2 linked regions of the Homo sapiens genome follow. The protein of the gene in region 2 interacts with the protein of the main gene of each other region in a pairwise test. Each region holds a gene or a part of one and is shown on either strand. Other genes may lie near its edges. The genes, in order: HAP1 and RHPN1.

What was found.
Region 1: the proteins of RHPN1 (region 2) and HAP1 interact in binary tests that used the Homo sapiens proteins (3 or more experiments, as listed by UniProt).

The regions. Positions count from the first base shown.
Region 1 is NC_000017.11:41,722,140-41,724,643, forward strand, and holds the end of HAP1 (huntingtin-associated protein 1), read right to left. Parts: 3' UTR 501-2,504; downstream 1-500. UniProt on the Homo sapiens protein: Originally identified as neuronal protein that specifically associates with HTT/huntingtin and the binding is enhanced by an expanded polyglutamine repeat within HTT possibly affecting HAP1 interaction properties.
Region 2 is NC_000008.11:143,378,645-143,384,991, reverse strand, and holds the end of RHPN1 (rhophilin-1), read right to left. Parts: intron 6,297-6,347; coding exon 6,172-6,296; intron 6,081-6,171; coding exon 5,914-6,080; intron 5,678-5,913; coding exon 5,484-5,677; intron 5,164-5,483; coding exon 5,007-5,163; intron 4,931-5,006; coding exon 4,817-4,930; coding exon of another isoform or gene 4,661-4,816; exon of another isoform or gene 4,404-4,660; coding exon 4,209-4,403; intron 3,725-4,208; coding exon 3,648-3,724; intron 3,421-3,647; coding exon 3,274-3,420; intron 3,186-3,273; coding exon 3,024-3,185; intron 2,557-3,023; coding exon 2,341-2,556; 3' UTR 771-2,340; downstream 1-770. UniProt on the Homo sapiens protein: Has no enzymatic activity. May serve as a target for Rho, and interact with some cytoskeletal component upon Rho binding or relay a Rho signal to other molecules.

The sequences.
Region 1 (2,504 bases), on a different chromosome or scaffold from region 2:
AGTGCTAGGATTACAGGCATGAGCCACTGCACCCAGCCTCCCCCAAATATTTTCTATCTGTGGTTAGTTGACTCCACGGATGCAGAGCCTGAGGATACGGAGGGCGACTATACTTGTTCCTAAACCCTGTTCCAGGTCTGCTCTGGGGACTTCACCCTAAGACAGTGGGTGACTCTCTCCCATCCTATCTTTCACAGCCAGGCCACTGAGTCAGTCTCTGGGGTGAAAGGATCAGGGAAGCATGAGCTCAAATCCCAGCTCCACACTAGCCATGATCTGCTGGTGAGGGCATCACTTAACCTACTCTGGCCTGAGTTTCTCCATCCAACAGACACTTATGACATCACCCACCGCCCTCTAGGAGCTGCTGCTATGATTAAACGGCGTATTTAATAGGAGTCCTCGGCACATACTTCAATATTAGCATCCACCCTTTCTCTACAACTTCGCCCTGCCAAGTGCACACACACACTCCCTAGAGAGACAGCTGGAGGCTGGGCCAGGAGGGTATAGATCCTTTATTTCCTGCACCACACGCACACAGGCTGACAAGCAATAGGAGATTGAGAGGTGCTGTGTGAAGGGGGGCAGGTACCTGCAGGAGGCCTCAGTCCCAGCCCCCAGCTATTGAGGAACAAAGGTGTGGGAAAGGGCAGAACATGGAAGAGGAAGCCAGGGGCAGGGAGGGGGGGATCAAGACAGAGGGGAGAGGGGCTGGGCCACGGATGGGAGCCTGGACACCCCCAGGCCACTGGCAGAAGAGGGAGGGAGGGAGAGGAGACACACCACTGGGCAGAGGGGCCCTCACCCACCCACACACAGAGACACTTGTGGTTACAAACAGTAGGTAGGGACTGAGAAGAAAGGATGAAGAACAGGGAAGACAGCCAGGTCCCTCAAGTCAACAAGAACCAGGGTGGCTACCATTAGCATGGGCATCAAGGGGTGAGGGGCACATTGTTGGGAAGGCGCTCACAACTCCCTGCCGGTGGAAGCTGGGCCCTGTTCCCTGCTCAGGGCTGAGTCTGGTAGCCAGTGGGCCTCTCCCGGGCTTCTCCTGCCCCCTGGGCTGCCATGTGGCCCAGACCTGGCAGCCACAGCTTTTGCACCAGCTGCAGAGCGAGGGCCGGGGTTCCTACCGCCTGTCCCTGAAGACGTTGGAAAAGCCTCCAACATGTGGGAAAGGGCAGAACATGGAAGAGGAAGCCAGGGGCAGGGAGGGGTCCCCAAGCTCCAGCCCAGGTTCATGAACACAGAGGGTGGGCTGGTGACAGACACAGGGTCCCATTTCAGAGGATGGGAAGGAGGGTCTGCGGGTGTGGGGCTTGGCCAGGCAGCAGAAGGAGGGGCCTCAAGCTGTCTGTGGGGCCTCTGCAGGCTGCTGGGGAACAGCAAAGCCTGGAAGAGAAGCAGGTGGATGTGAACTGGGGCATTGATGACCACAGGCCTGGCCTGGGCGGTGGGCAGGGGTCTGATCAACTGTATCAGAAGGACACGGAAAGTCGCCATTGATAATTATGCAGGTTGCCCCCTGCATGCGCCATAAAGGTCATGGTTCAGTTTATAACCTGCACAAGCTTACATGACACGCCTGCTGAAGCCAGTGCTATTCCACCCGGCAGTGACCAAAGGGCCATGAGAATGGGGACAGGCTGGGACGGGTACCAGGACAGCACTAGAGGGGAGGGATGGGCCAGTGAAGGTGCTACAGCACAGGAGTAGAGAGGACGGGCTCAGATCTACCCCGGCTGTGTGGCCCCAAACAAGTGTCCTTAGCTCTCTGAGCCTCACCCTCCTCACCTAACCAATGGGGACACATCACCTGCCACGGAATGAGGCTGATGGGAGCTGATGCACGTGCAATGGCTGCTGTGCATGAGTGTCACAAGGTCATCTTTCATGTCCTGCGGCTCCTTAAAGAGGCAGGGCTCACATGGCCTGCACTCGGAAGGTGCAGCTCCCAGACTTTGGGGTTTCTGGCTGGGGAGAGGAGACCCTGTTCCACCCCACAACCCTGCAGGAGGCCCTAGCCCACCTTCTGACACCCAGGGGACTGTTCCAACTGTGGCCCTTGCTGGTGAAGGCCTTTGTCCCCATAGCCTGGGCAGTCCCAGAAGGCCTCTCTTCCTCCCAGGCCGTGGGAGGGTGGCTGGCCCTGTCCTCCAGCCTGGGTCAGCCCCCGGGCTGCTCCACCATCCCACCCACCGCCCCCCGTGTTTGTTTTGACTGCTGCTGCCACTGCTGCAGAGTTGGAGAGCCTGGGGGATAGAGGAGGCAGGGGTTGGGGGCAGGGGAAGCAAGCGGGCAGAGATGGGAAGCTGAGGCGCAGTGTGGGGGCACAGTCCCAGCCCTAACCCCCAGCCCAGCCCCCAGGAGAAAAGTGGATGGAGATCTGGAATCCTAAGCAAATGCCACATAAATGAGCACTGACACTACGGTTCCCACTGAAGGGGATCAGAGGTGTCTATGCAAATGATATGCAAAGTCCATGCAAATAAGCACAG
Region 2 (6,347 bases):
TCAGCAGGCCCCTGCGCCGGGCAGGCAGCCACCAGCTACTGCAGGGATGAGGATGGGATGGGGCGCGGTCCCTTCCCGCAGCCCAGGGGCTGTCTGGCAGGACTCCCACAGATGCCGGAGGGGCATGGTCCAAGTCTGAGGGGCTGGGCTGGTAGGCATCCGCTTTCTCTTCTGGAGAGCAGCCCCAAGTGGAAGGTGGGGAGGGGGACCCCCCTCCTGCCCAGCCCTGCCTTGACTAGAACTCTGGACCCCAGATCCCAGGACCTCCGCCCCCCTCCCCCTGGCTGGCAGCAGGACCTCAGGGCCCCCCACATCGCCACAGCACCCCTGTGCACCAGGCTTCCTCCACTTCACAGGACGGAGGCGGTGACGGGAGCCAGGTCCCAGCCACGTGTGGCTTCAGCTGTGAGGCCCCCCCTCTGTGGCAGAGGGACACGACGGCGGGGGGGGGGGCAGCAGGGGAGGAGATGGCCTGGGGCAGAGGGCAGGGCCAGGAGCACAGGCCCAGGCTTGGTGGCAGCCAGGGGAGAGGCATGTGTGGGCAGGGGTGGGACGGGTTGGGCGCACCCCAGGGGTCTGCGGTGGGGAGAGGCGTGCTCTCTGGGCAAAAGCCCCCTCCCCCAGGCTATGGTGGCCTGGCGCCCACCATGCAGGAGGCAGGTGGCAGCTCTGTCCCCAGCTTGGGTCTCGACAGGCCACAGGAGGTGGGGAGTCCCTGCACTTCCCAGACAGGGCTGCCACCCTGTCATCCCCAGTTAGTGCCTACTGGCCTCCTTGATCCACAGTTTTATTAACCAAATTAACACGTGCTGGGGAGACCTGCGTGACCTTGGCCCATTCTGCTGAGACAGGGATTTTCCCACAAGGGCAAGTGGGGGACCTGGACCCCCACCCCGGCTCAGGCAGGTTGGGGAGCCCTGCCCTCCTGCCCAGGAAGATCGCGCCGCGGCGCCTGCGTCTCTGGGACCCCAAACACCCTACTTGCACCCCCATTTTCTTGGCTGAAGCACGAGGGAGGTGGCAGCGCAGGGCCCTGGACCCTGGAACCAGAGCCTGGGATGCAGGGCAGGCTGCTCTCACCTGCGGACCCTCGGAAGGGACTGGACAAGAGGGCAGGGGTCTCGCAGAGCTGGGGGCCGCCTTTCTACCCGGGGTCTTTGCCTCAGCCCTCCCAAGGCGCACCTGCCCGTGCCGCCTCCCAGGGCTGCTGAGCGGGTGGCGGCTGCCCCCTAGTGGCTGCAGGGAATGACTCCCGCTGGCCCTGTCTCTTCCGGAACCTGCCAGGCCCTGGGGCCCTCGGTGGGGGCCTCCGCTCCGGCTCCGGCTCCGTGGCTCCTCTTGGGTGCAGCCCTGACTCTGCAGCCCTTCCCACCCTCTCCTCTTGGTGCCCAAGTCCTGAGCCCACTGCTGTAGGGGTCCTGGAGGTGGTGTTCTTGCCGACGGCCTTTGGGGGCCATTGTCCACCCAGTACACGGAGGCCTGGAGGCAGCCCTCACTTCCCCTGCTTGAGACACTGACAGCTCACGGCCTGTGGAGGCCAGCAGGAGCGGCCCAAGCAGGCTGGGGAGGGCTGGGGGCCCATGCAGGCCCCAGGCTCAGAGAGAAGTGACACGCCCAGGAGCTGGAGGGTGGCACCCATGCTCAGAGCAGGACAGCAAGGCGGGCAGCAGGGCTGGCAGGCTTAGGGCCACCATGAGACCTGGGCCACGACACCAGGGACTCCTGGGCAAACGGGACACTTGCTGGGTTGACCAGCACAGAGCCCATGATGACCAGCACAGGGCGCAGAGGTGGGGAGTCCCTTGCTCTGTGCACAGACAGGACAGCAGGAAGTATTTTGGGGGAAGGCCATGTCTGGGACCCGGCCTAGAGGTCTGCGGGTGCTGTGGGTGTGTCTGGCTGCTGCATGGTGGAGGGGCAGTGAGCGAAGGGGTGCCCAGCAGGAATCACTGGGCACCAGGCAGAAACTTGGCTGGAGGCAGGACTGAGACCTCAGGGTCTGTGCCCAGGGCAGCAGCAGGGTGGACAGAGCCCGGGGGTACAGATGGGATGGCTGTGAGGAGCACCCTGTAAGGAGCCCTCAGGGTGGGGCAGCCCCAGGAAGCTGACCTCAGACCGACAGAGGGACTGGCATCCTTCTGTGTGTGGGTGAAGAGGCCACAGCTCCCATCACTGGGCTCAGACAGGTCTGACCAGTCTTTAATGGGCAGGCAGGTGCCCGAGGCAGCCTCCAGCATGAGGCGGGACAGGCATTGCCCGGAGGTCCTCTGGGTGGGGAGGGCATGCTCGGTGCTTGCTGCCAGCTGGAGCCAGGGCTGAGGCGTGCAGGGATCCTGGCCCTCACGGCCACCCTGGGTGCTTCAAGGATGAGGGCGGAGCTGGCTTCACTGGGGCACAGGGCTGGGGGCAGCCTCCAGTCTTGCCCTGCTGGGCCTTTCGGCTCCAGTTGAGGAGGGGCCGGGGACTGGCCCACGTGGATGCCGGGGTCTTGCAACCATGCTCCCTCTGGCTCCTTAGAAGCCCCCTGGGGCCCAGCAGGACGGGCCGGCGGTCCCCCTGCAGCAGGGACAGAGACAGACTGTGGTCAGCCACTGCTGGCCTGTCCCCACCTGCAGCCAGTCTGGGAGGGGTGAGAACCACCTGGGAGGGGCTGGCACGTCGGGGGCTTGTTTGGGGGCTCCCATCAGGGTGGCCACATAGCAGGGGCCCATGGGTTTCACCCAACCCTGGGTCAGCCATGCTGGGTAGAGAAAACCTCTGGGATGGAGCGCCTGGCCCAGAAGCCTCCAGTCTGAGGATACAGAGGCCCAGTGAGGGGTGGGCTGCAGCATCCTCGGGGTCAGGGCAAGAGCTGCCAGATGGAGGCCACAGCACAGGTGGCCCCTGCCCAGGAGGCGGCCCAGGGAGGGTTACCTGCAGCCCCACCTCCCCTTCCCAATGTTGCTCAAGCATCCAAGGCAGGCCCAGGGCCAGGGTGGTGACAGCAAGCTGGGGACCGCCCCTCTGGGGCCCCAGGGGCTCACCAAGCTGGGCAGTCTAGAGCTGGGCAGCAGCGACACCACCTGCAGGCTGGCGCCCGCCTCTCCCGCAGCCTTCAGCTCCGTCACCACCTCCGCGTGTCTCCACCACCTGCATGGCTGCCCATTCACTGACACAATGTAGTCGCCCTCCTTCAGGCCAGCCGCCTGTGGGGAGACTTGGACGGTGAGGTGGGGACAGGACACCCTGGCTGGCACCAAGGACTCAGCCTCAGGGGGCCGGCGGGGCCCTTACCGCGGCCTGGCTCCCTGGAATGACGGCAGCGATGAGGACAGGCGAGTCTCCCCGAAGCGTGAGGCCAAAGCCGCCCTCTCCTCGGGTCAGGTGGACGGGCCCCACCAGCCGCCACCGGTTCTTGGCTGAGAACACAGACAGGGGCCCCTGGCAGGGGCTCAGAGGTCAGAGGCCCAGCTGGGCCACACACTGAGGAGACCCCGCCTGACTAGCACATCCATCCAACCTGTGCACCGAGGGACACCGTGGGGTTCCACAAGGTGGGTGGGGAGGGCTGGACCACCATCAATGGCCTGTCTGAGGCCATGTGCTGGTCAGAGCCACACAGCCCAAGCTGCCCATGCTGGGCGGTGCCTGGGGACGGGTGTGCTCACCAGCCGATGGAAGATGTCAGGCCCCTTCCCCTGGGACAGGCGTGGCATCCTGGCCTCTGGCTTCTGGTGGGTCTTAGCTGAGAGGGTGTAAGAGCAGAGCTAAGCTGGGAGACTGTGGAGACCTGCCTCGGGGATTTTCCAGGGCGCAGGGCATGACCCTGAGTGCACACAGGCCCCGCTTCTGACCTCCAGGCCTGGCCACTCTGCAATGGTGGGAGGAGCTGCCCCAGGTGTGCCCTGAACACACGGCCCCCTCTGCCCCAAGTGGCTCCCAAAATCCCTCCCTGAAGTCCCAGCCATGCCTGTCCTGGGTCTGTGGGCTTCCCCTCAGGGTAGGAGGCCAGTGCAGGGAGGGAGGTGCTGAGGAGCGTGGTCATCCCCCAGGCCCCTGAAGGGCCCAGCAGCTCTGTGGGTCCCTGTGATCGTGGCCTGGAAAGTGCTACTGCTGTTTAATTCATCGTGGTGACTGCATCTTTAATGCAATCAGCCTCCCTTTCTCCAGGACGAAGGCCCCCACCCTGGCCAGGGATGCAGCCACCCAGACAGGCCCTGGCTGCTCACGCTGGATGTCCGGGGCCTCGGCAGCCTCACAGAAGTCATCCTCACGGTCGAGCTCCGCATACTTGGCCAGTGAGCGCTGCAGCGTCTGGGAGATCACAGCCCGAAGCAGGTCCACCTCGCGCAGGACGCGGCACAGGGCGTGCAGCCGCAGCGCCTCCTCCTGCCCCAGGATGGCACGCTTCAGGTGTGCCTTGCCTGCACGCGGGGCACTGGGATGTCACACACCATGTGGGCCCGTGGGCCCTGGGACGTGGCAGAAGGAGTGGGCAACGCCAGGGCTGTGGGGCTCATCACAGCCACTTTCGTTGGGGGTGCGCGCCACGGGGGTGAGGAGCTGGCTGTGCAGGAGGGCTCTGCCACGTGCAAAGCAGGGGCCAGGGATGAGCTGCTCCCAGTGGTCTCCCACCTGCTCAGAGGCTGCCCAGCACTCCTGGGGCCCCTGCGCTGGGCCGTCACCCATCAGGCACAGGCCATCCAGGGATAGGTAGGTGGCCCAACTCGTCAGCACGGGGACAGCAGGTGGCAAACAGCATGAGGGTGGTGGGGGACACCCTGCCACCGTTGGTGACCATCTGAGCCCCAGGGCACTCCACCCATGGGCGCCTTACCAAGCTGCCTGCGCTCCTCCAGCTCCTGCGGCAGCACAGGGCCTCGGGGCTTAGAGGAGGTGGGGGGCTGCAGGAAGACCTGCTCGTGCGTGGGGAGCTCTCCCTCGGTCGCTGCTGGGGGACAGAGAGGCTGTGAGCCCTGCGCGGGGGGGCCTTGGCAGTACCATGGGCAAGTGTGGTGGGCACTCACGGGAGCCGTCGCAGAGGGCCATGGCTACGTGGTAGTGGGCCAGGGAGCGGAAGTACTCGGCCTTGACATGCACCAGGGCAGTCCAGGAGACAGGCACGTAGTCGTGGACGGGTGGCTGGGCCATGGTCCGGTGCACTAGCCTGTACTCGGCTGCCACCTGCCGGTGGATGTGGCAGGCACGCGAGGGCCTCCCACTCTCCAGGTGGTGCCTGCTTCTCCCTACCCAGCCTCCACCTGCTCCGACCACCATCCCAGCAGCCTCCCTGGCACCTCAGTTCCTGCTGCTTTGTGCCATCCCCTGGAGGCAGAGGCTCGGGTCCCCAGGTTCCTGACCAGCCCCCCCAGGGAGCAGGACAACAGCTGGCTCGGGGCTGACACACAAGGAAGGAGGTGGGAGAGCTCACGCATGCCTGGACCTGGGCTCTGACCCCAGCTCGGCCCCACCCCCTGCATCCTGACACGGGTGCCCGAGCTCACCTGGGCGGCCTCCTGCGCCAGGCGCAGCTGGGCCAGGCAGTCTTGGGGGGCCATGGAGGCAGGTGGTGAGAGGCCCTCAAACACACATTCCTGGGCCTGGGCCATCATGAGCTGCTCCAGTGCGCAGAGGGACGCAGCGCTCATGTCTGGGCTCGGCGCATGGGAGAAGTTCTCCCTCAGGAGGCTGAAGGCCCCTGCGGAGGGAGGGGTGCTCACACAGGCAGGGCCCTGTACCTGCCCATCTCTGCCCCATGCAGCACTCAGGGCGGCCAGCTAGGGATGCTCCTGGGACACATATGGACCTGATGTGCTCACTCCCCCTACCTGAGGGACTGATGTCCTAACCACTCCCCAGCTCCTGCCCTGCAAAAGGGGCTCTGCAACACCCTGGCACCGCGCCGTGCCCCACCGCGGCCCGGGCCGCCCTCACCAGCGGCCCTCTGGAAGGCCTCCATAGCGCGGCGGGCACCCTCGGTGCAGGAGCGGTCCTGGCGCGCCCCAATCTGCGTGTGGAGGGCACCGATGTTGAAGAGAACGCTGCCCTTCTCGAAGGCCAGGGCACGCTGCTGGGCCGGGACCCCAGTAAGCGAGTCGTACCTGCAGTGTTGGGTCAGGCTGGGTGGAGTTCCCACGGTTCCCGCAGCTGGGCCTCCCCTCCCCAGGGTGCCTCCGCCCGCAGAGCCCCTACCAGTGGAAGAAGAGCCCGAGGCTCCTGGCAGGGGTGAGGAAGCGCGCATCCAGGAAGCACAGCTGGTTGTAATAGGCTGTGAGCAGCTCCAGGCCCGACTCATTCCGGCTGGGGGTCCGCATGGCCTGCAGGGCAGGAGCCACTGGGCCCCACCGCCCTGGCCCACCCCACTCACA